2 linked regions of the Homo sapiens genome follow. The protein of the gene in region 2 purifies or fractionates together with the protein of the main gene of each other region. This does not show direct contact. Each region holds a gene or a part of one and is shown on either strand. Other genes may lie near its edges.

Region 1 (3,500 bases), on a different chromosome or scaffold from region 2:
CAAAATTTCTTACAATTGAAAACTTTAATCTGTGACTAGCAATTTGGGACAATTTAATACACAAATTTCCCAGCCTTTTGATTTTTTAAGTTGTTCTGATTGAAGGAAGATATCTCTCAGGACTATAATTCTCTTTTCAGACAAATAAGACCACATCTCTCTTCCACATATACCTTTTCATGACGTCAATCACATCCTGGGGAAAAGATAGAAAACATGAGTCAAGATAGGGTTGCCAGATTTAGAACATAAAAGTGGCTAGTTCAATTAGAATTTGGGATAAACAATATATTTTTTGTTATATATATGACCCTTATAATATTTAAGATATTCTTATACTAAAAATATTACATTTCTTTTATCTGAAATTAAACTTTAACTGAGCATCCTGTATTTTGTCTAGCAATGCTCAAAAAAGTAATAGGCCCTCCTATCTTACAAAGTTTTATCCACCTTCCTCCCCACACTCTTACTATCCCTGGATATGGTGGGAATAAATAGATGGTCACAGACTGGGGACAAAGTGTGGAGATAAGATTCAGACTGACCACTGCAGAGGACTAAGATGAGGGTGTTAGGAAGATGCTTCAAGTATCTCAAGAAGGAATATATTTTAAAAAGAGGGAGGAGCTCTAATATTTTTATACATTTTTAATGAGAAAACCTCATTAATTCATTGTGTTTTTATTTTATACATCAACAGACACAAAACAGCGAAATACGTTTGCCCTATATTTTTTCAGGCTTTAGGGATCTAATGATGAAAATTAATAATAAAAGTCCTTAAGAAGTGTACTGTTGCCGTGAGCAAAAGCAAGCAAGCATTTCAACTAAAAGTTTGTCTGGCCTCCATGTACTCACTGTGTATGCTGACTAAACTCCACTGTAGGTGATCTCATACATTTTTCAGTATGAAACAAGCCACAGGACCAAGTAACTGAGTAGGTCTTAAATGTAACTTACTATTTCCCAACTATTTACACCCCACTGTCCCGAATAGTGTCAATATCCACTTAGTCATCATCTTTGAAACTATAAAATTTTATCCTGGATTCCAACATTTTATTAACCTAGACTAGTTTACATTTTTAACTGTTTTTAGCTATCTTTTCTTTCTCACCATAACCATTATTTCCTTTATTTTTTTGAACAAGTATGTACCAATATATTTGATCTCCCGCTGTCTGATCTGACCCCCTTTATACCAACAAAGACTTGACCTCCAGTTGACTTCACACCCTCAGAAATAGTTTCACTGCCTGTATTAGCTTTTTTGTTGTTGTAATATCTGACAAAACCAACTAAAACTGGTTTAAATTTTTAAAAAACAAATTCAAGGGGTCAAGTATAATTTTACTCATAGCTACATCTTTAAACTAAAATCTTGCCATCAGAATCTGGTTTTTCTTCTAAAAATTATATTTCATACCTATTATATTGACTTATTTTCAGATTAATTATGGCATCAGCTTGACTCTCCTGGTTTAAATTATTATCCCTGATATGATACCCATCAGAAAAGACAACGGCTCTTTTTACTCATGACAGTAAAATTCTAAGGCATGCAAACCATCGACTCCAATTGAGTCAAGTATATATCTTAAAATAATTACTGTAAAGTTGGTAAAAATATAAGAGTTGGATATAATGATTTGCCAGAACTGAGTAACATATACATGCCTAATGCTACTAATTTTGTCTACTTTAACCAACTGCAGGGAATGAGGCAGGGTAGGGATGGTTCCTCAAAAGTTATTATAAAGAAACAATCAAAAGGAATAGAGGTTAGACAGACAAACAAATATTGTCCTCTATGGTCCATTCCTCAGCTGTCTGCCACGTCTTCAGCCTTATTACCAAACTGTTTGCAAAAAATGGCACATTCCTCAGCTCTCTGCCACCTCTTCACCCTTATTACCAAACTGTTTGTGAAACAGGGCACAATATAATACAATGGCTACAATAACATTAAAAATAGATAACTTATACCATATAACCACTATAACTAAAAATAAATCAAAGACCTAAAGATATAAAACTCCTAGAAGAAAAGGGGAAAATTGCATGACATTGGATTTGGTAGTGATTTGTTGGCTATGATACAAAAAGTAAAGGCAATGTGAGAAAAAAATAAATAAACAGATCTTTACCAAAATGAAACTTTAAAAAAATCACTTTTAAGTTATGAAGAACACTATGAAGAGAGCGAAAAGGCAATCTACAGAATGGGAAAGCATATTTACAAATTATATGTCTGATAAGGTATTAATATCCAGAATCTATAAATGACTCCTAAAATTCAACAAGAAAATCAACATCCATTCAGATAAAACCTCTCAACAAACTGATAATAAAAGAGAACATCCTAAAAACTGATAAGAAACATGTATAAGTAGTATACAACTAATAACATAATTAATAGTGAAAGTCTGAATTACTTCCTCCTAAAATCAAGAAAAAGACTAGCGTGTGTGGTTTCACCACTAAGGTCAACATTGTATTGGAAGTTTTATCAAGTGCAATAAAGAAAAAAAAAGAAAGATAAAGAAGAAAAGAGTAAAAATAAAAAGAAATAAGACATCTAGCATGAAAGAGAAGTAAAACTATATTTGGTTTGGTAGAATGATTTATTTTCCTTTGGGTATATACCCAGCAGGGGGATTGCTGGGTCTAACAGTAGCTCTGTTTTAAGTTCTTTTAGAAACCTCCAGACTGCTTTCTACAATGGCTGAAATAATTTACATTTCTACCAACAGAGTACATGTTCCCATTACTCTGTAGCCTCACTAGCATCTGTTAATTTTTGACTTTATAATAATAGCCATTCTGACTGTTGTGAGATGGTATCTCGTTGTGGTTTTGATTTGCATTTCTCAGGTTATTAGCAATGATGAGCATTTTTTCATATGTTTGTTGGCCACCTGTATGTCTTCTTTGGATAAATGTCTGTTCATGACTTTTGCCCATTTTTAATGGGGTTCTTTGTTTTCTTGCTTGTAGCAAAGACATGGAATCAACCCAGGTATCCATCAATAGTAGACTGGATAAACAAAATGTGGTACATATACACCATGGAATACTACATAGTCATAAAAAAAATAAAATTTCCGGGCGCGGTGGCTCATGCCTGTAGTCCCAGCACTTTGGGAGGCTGAGGTGGGCGGATCACGAGGTCAGGAGATCGAGACTGTCCTGGCTAACAAGGTGAAACCCCGTCTCTACTAAAAATACAAAAAATTAGCCGGGCGTGGTTGCAGGCGCCTGTAGTCCCAGCTACTCGGGAGGATGCAGCAGGAGAATGGCCTGAACCCGGGAAGCAGAGCTTGCAGTGAGCCAAGATTGCGCCACTGCTCTCCAGCCTGGGTGACAGAGCAAGACTCCATCTCAAAAAAAAAAAGAAAAAAAAAGAATAAAATTATGTCCTTTGCAACAACATGGATGCAGCTGGAGGCCATAATCCTAAGCAAATTAACACGGGAACTGAAAATCAAGCACTGCAT
Region 2 (4,149 bases):
AGTGCCAAAACCCCAGCTTAGCATTTTAACCTCCTTAGCAGCTTCTTTCTGCTTGGTTTCCTAAAATGTGAATGCCGTGAAAGGAAATTGTGCGCAGGATGTAGGGTTTTGTTTTGTTTTGGAGGTTTATTTCTGCAGTTCATTTTTCTTTGGGATTGTGGCACCTTAAGACGTGACTACTTAATAACTCGGAATTCCAATCTTGTCTACTCAACCCAGTGAAACTGCTACACATTTTAAGTTTTTCTCTTGGGCCTTTGCCCTGTGCTACAAATCAGCAAATCCTCTGATGGAAAATAGCTAAACAGCTTTCCAACAGCTGTTTATTGTTTTTAAATTTAGCCTGTTTAGCTAATCTCAGTAGAAGGAATTGTATTTTTAAAGTAAAATAACTATAGAGAAGCTAGAAAGGTGTCAATTAGGCATTTAGAAGTTCTTGTGAAACCACTGACTGTTAATATACATTGCTATAACATTTCTTGGCTGGGTGCAGTGGCTCATGCCTGTAATCCCAGCACTTTGGGAGGCTGAGGAGGGCGGATCACCTGAGGTCAAGAGTTCAAGACCAGCCTGGCCAACATGGCGAAACCCTGTCTCTACTAAAAGTACAAAAAACTTGCCAGGTGTGGTGGCGGGCATCTGTAATCCCAGCTACTCGGGAGGCTGAGGCAGGAGAATCACCTGAAACCGCGAAGTGGAGGTTGCAGTGAGCCGAGATCATGCCACTGCACTTCAGCCTGGGCGACAGAATGAGACTCGGTCTCAAAACAAACAAAAAAACAAACAAAACAAAATTTCTTACCCAAATATCACTCCTTGAGTGAAGCCTGTCGTAGCTCCCTTATCATCAGTTCCATTCTCTTCTGTGGCACCCTAGGTTTTGTCACTCTCTTCTATTATGTCTGTGTATATTTCTCCCAGCATGTGATGAGGTCTAAAACTGGGACAGTCAGCTCTGTGTTTCCCCACCTACAACACCTGACACATAGTTCACTCTCTATAGAGGTTGAATGAATGAATTGTCCTTTACCTAAATTCATCTTTGAGGTTAAATGCAAGGTTTCCTTTTAGTGTTTCAAGTTTTAGAGAGATGATTTTGGGCTTAGTGCTGTGTATAGCATTGACTGGGGAAAGAAAGAGGCAGCAGCATTTTAGGTCATAAGCGATATAAAGGAACCAGCATTCTTGTTGGGAAATCACAACATATATGACATATATACAAACAATACAAATACAAAATTATTGTCTTGTCAGAACTACCATGTTGACAGCTTCAGGGGGTGCCCCAGCAGTAGTGTGAAGGGACTCTTGGATTTGTGCAATGCAGTAGCCCTGTCTAGACCACATACGGGCTGTGGGAATTAATATTACTTATAAATACATCATTACCTCTCAGTTTTCTGTTACTATCAGGTGACTCTGAGTGAAGGTCCTCACCATGTGGCCCTATTTAAAGATAGTTCTCGGGAGTTTGATCTTACCAAAGAAGAAGATGTAAGTAAAATTCATCTAAGGTTGATATGTGTAATTTTATAACCTGGATGAGCTTATAAAAGACAGTTAAAGAATATTTGTGAATTAAGATTTTCTTAGATTTTCTTAGGATTTTGTGTTTTCCATTAGCTTGCAGCATTAAGACATGAAATAGAACTTCGAATGAGGAAAAATGTGAAAGAAGGCTGTACCGTTAGCCCTGAGGTAAGGGTTGCAATTCATTTCAGTGACGTTTTATGGAAATTAAATGTTTATGATTTCAAATAAATCAAAATCTAGGTATTGATGTTTAGATTGCTGCTATCTAGATATGTAGAGCTTTTAAAAAAAAATCCAAATAATATATCATTTTGTGGGTAATTTTCCAGAATAATTACTTTTAGGATCAGAGAAAGAATACCATTTTTGTGAGCGTCTTATCTGAATGGATGAGATATAGAATTTTTAGAATACATTTCACCAAAAAAAATTCTTGACAAATTCCCCCCAAACTTTAGCATTGTTTTATTTTTATTTTTCCTGAGTAGACCATATCCTTAAATGTAAAAGGCCCTGGACTACAGAGGATGGTGCTTGTTGACTTACCAGGTGTGATTAATGTAAGTATATACAAAACATGTATTTTATTTTATTCTTATTGTGTGAAGCATTTATAATGACATTTAAAACCTTTTTCTTTAAGACTGTGACATCAGGCATGGCTCCTGACACAAAGGAAACTATTTTCAGTATCAGCAAAGCTTACATGCAGAATCCTAATGCCATCATACTGTGTATTCAAGGTAAATCATATCAAAAGATTTTAATGTACTGATATGTTTTCTTCTTTAGCAATCCAAGCTTTGCATTAAATAGTTTGTGTTATGTAAACATACAAGATAAATGCATTTTTGCCTTCTCTTCGTATTCATTTTATTAGTAAATTAAATTGAAGTTGAAATTATTTTGATAAGTTTTACATAAGCATCATTGAAATTTTTATCGGCTAGGATTTCTTTTTAGTAAATAACGTAAATGTATTAAAATCTTTCTTGCTATAATGTAGACACAGGGGTATAATTTGTACTGAGTTTTAAAAGTCTACTTTACATCTTAAAATTCCACAGTGTCATTTTTTTATTTTTTTCAGATGGATCTGTGGATGCTGAACGCAGTATTGTTACAGACTTGGTCAGTCAAATGGACCCTCATGGAAGGAGAACCATATTCGTTTTGACCAAAGTAGACCTGGCAGAGAAAAATGTAGCCAGTCCAAGCAGGGTGAGGTCAAATTCTTTGTTGCGAGAATAGATTCTTTGTAAAAGCTCCAGCTGTGATAGGGATTTGTTATTTAAAAAAACAACAACAACAACAAAAAAACACCTTACAACTAAGATTTATTACAATGAAAGGATAAAGCAAAATCACAAAAGGAAATGGTACATGGTATGAAGTCTGAAGGAAACCAGGCTCACGTTTTTCCACTAGTTCATTCCCAGTAGACTCTACTGGGCACATTTAATTCCTCCAGCAACAAGCTGCTTGTTAGAGACTCAGCTCCTAAGGTTTTCATCGGAGGTTAGTCATTTCGGCACCCTCATGTACCAAAATTATTTCATACTCCCAAAAGGAAAGCATATGTTATAATTAAACCACATTACTTCAGTAGTGAGCCACTGTTATATAAGGAAAGGTTTATATCAGTGTAGGGAACTGTTTACCAGTTAAGTTTTCAGATACCAGCCAAAGACAGGCAGGCCTTTTTAAGGACAGTAGTCTCAGGCCTGCTGTGTTAACCCTTTTCTAGGTAGCCACCATAACCTCTGTTCTGCTTTCTTTTTAAGGGTAAGGCCTGCCGTGGCATTAATGGTTCTGATATGGAGAAGGGGAGAAGTGAGGTAGAAACAAATTTCTGTGGCCTCCTCCCCATCTTTCTTCATTCCTTTCATTTCTTTCAACTCTAGGATAGTGAGTTTATATTTCTTCTGAGATGCAACTGAAGCTTATTTCAGTCCTTTTTGTATAAAAGATTCAGCATTAGCTTAGGTGTAACTTGTCTTAAAGGAGGGATTCTCATCCCATTATTAATCTGAATGGGCTTCAGGGGGTAGAAACTCTAACATATGTGAAAGGTCTCTATGCAAATATGCATTTTTCTGGGTACATAGTCTTTTTTTTTTTTTAGTCACATTTAGAAATGGATTTTTGATCCTAAAAGAGTTGAGAAGCAGTGGATCCAAATATTAAAGAAGAAGGTGGGAGGGGAGGAAGGAGTAAAAGAAGACAATCCAGCTTGGTTAGAATTTAGATATTTGAAGAAAGTATGGAAAAATAATAATAGCTACCATTTATTGAGTGCTTCATGCCTGGCACTGTATCATATTGTCCCATAATCTCACCAACCTTTTTGAAAAAATTAAGTTGTTTACTTAAGGTCGCATAACTACTAGGCAGCAGAGCAGGAATTCAAACTAAGGTCTGTCTGACTTTAAAGAACTACACATCATTCCGGGTTTTCGATACGTGTGTTTTAATAATACATTTTCAATGTAGTAAAATTAAATGTATTTTTTTCAAATAGCAATGGAAAAACATTTTAAATGCTTTTGTGCAGATTTATTTAACTATATACATGTATAGCATTATTTTGCTTTCTAAATTGTATATTACGCTTTT

Evidence for each region.
Region 1: the proteins of OPA1 (region 2) and TRIM22 purify together in Homo sapiens (affinity purification with western blotting; one study listed by BioGRID). This does not show direct contact.

What each region holds. Positions count from the first base shown.
Region 1 is NC_000011.10:5,703,290-5,706,789, reverse strand, and holds part of TRIM22 (E3 ubiquitin-protein ligase TRIM22), read right to left. Parts: intron 197-3,500; coding exon 174-196; intron 1-173. UniProt on the Homo sapiens protein: Interferon-induced E3 ubiquitin ligase that plays important roles in innate and adaptive immunity.
Region 2 is NC_000003.12:193,641,352-193,645,500, forward strand, and holds part of OPA1 (dynamin-like GTPase OPA1, mitochondrial), read left to right. Parts: intron 1-1,413; coding exon 1,414-1,494; intron 1,495-1,623; coding exon 1,624-1,698; intron 1,699-2,021; coding exon 2,022-2,093; intron 2,094-2,176; coding exon 2,177-2,276; intron 2,277-2,623; coding exon 2,624-2,754; intron 2,755-4,149. UniProt on the Homo sapiens protein: Dynamin-related GTPase that is essential for normal mitochondrial morphology by mediating fusion of the mitochondrial inner membranes, regulating cristae morphology and maintaining respiratory chain function.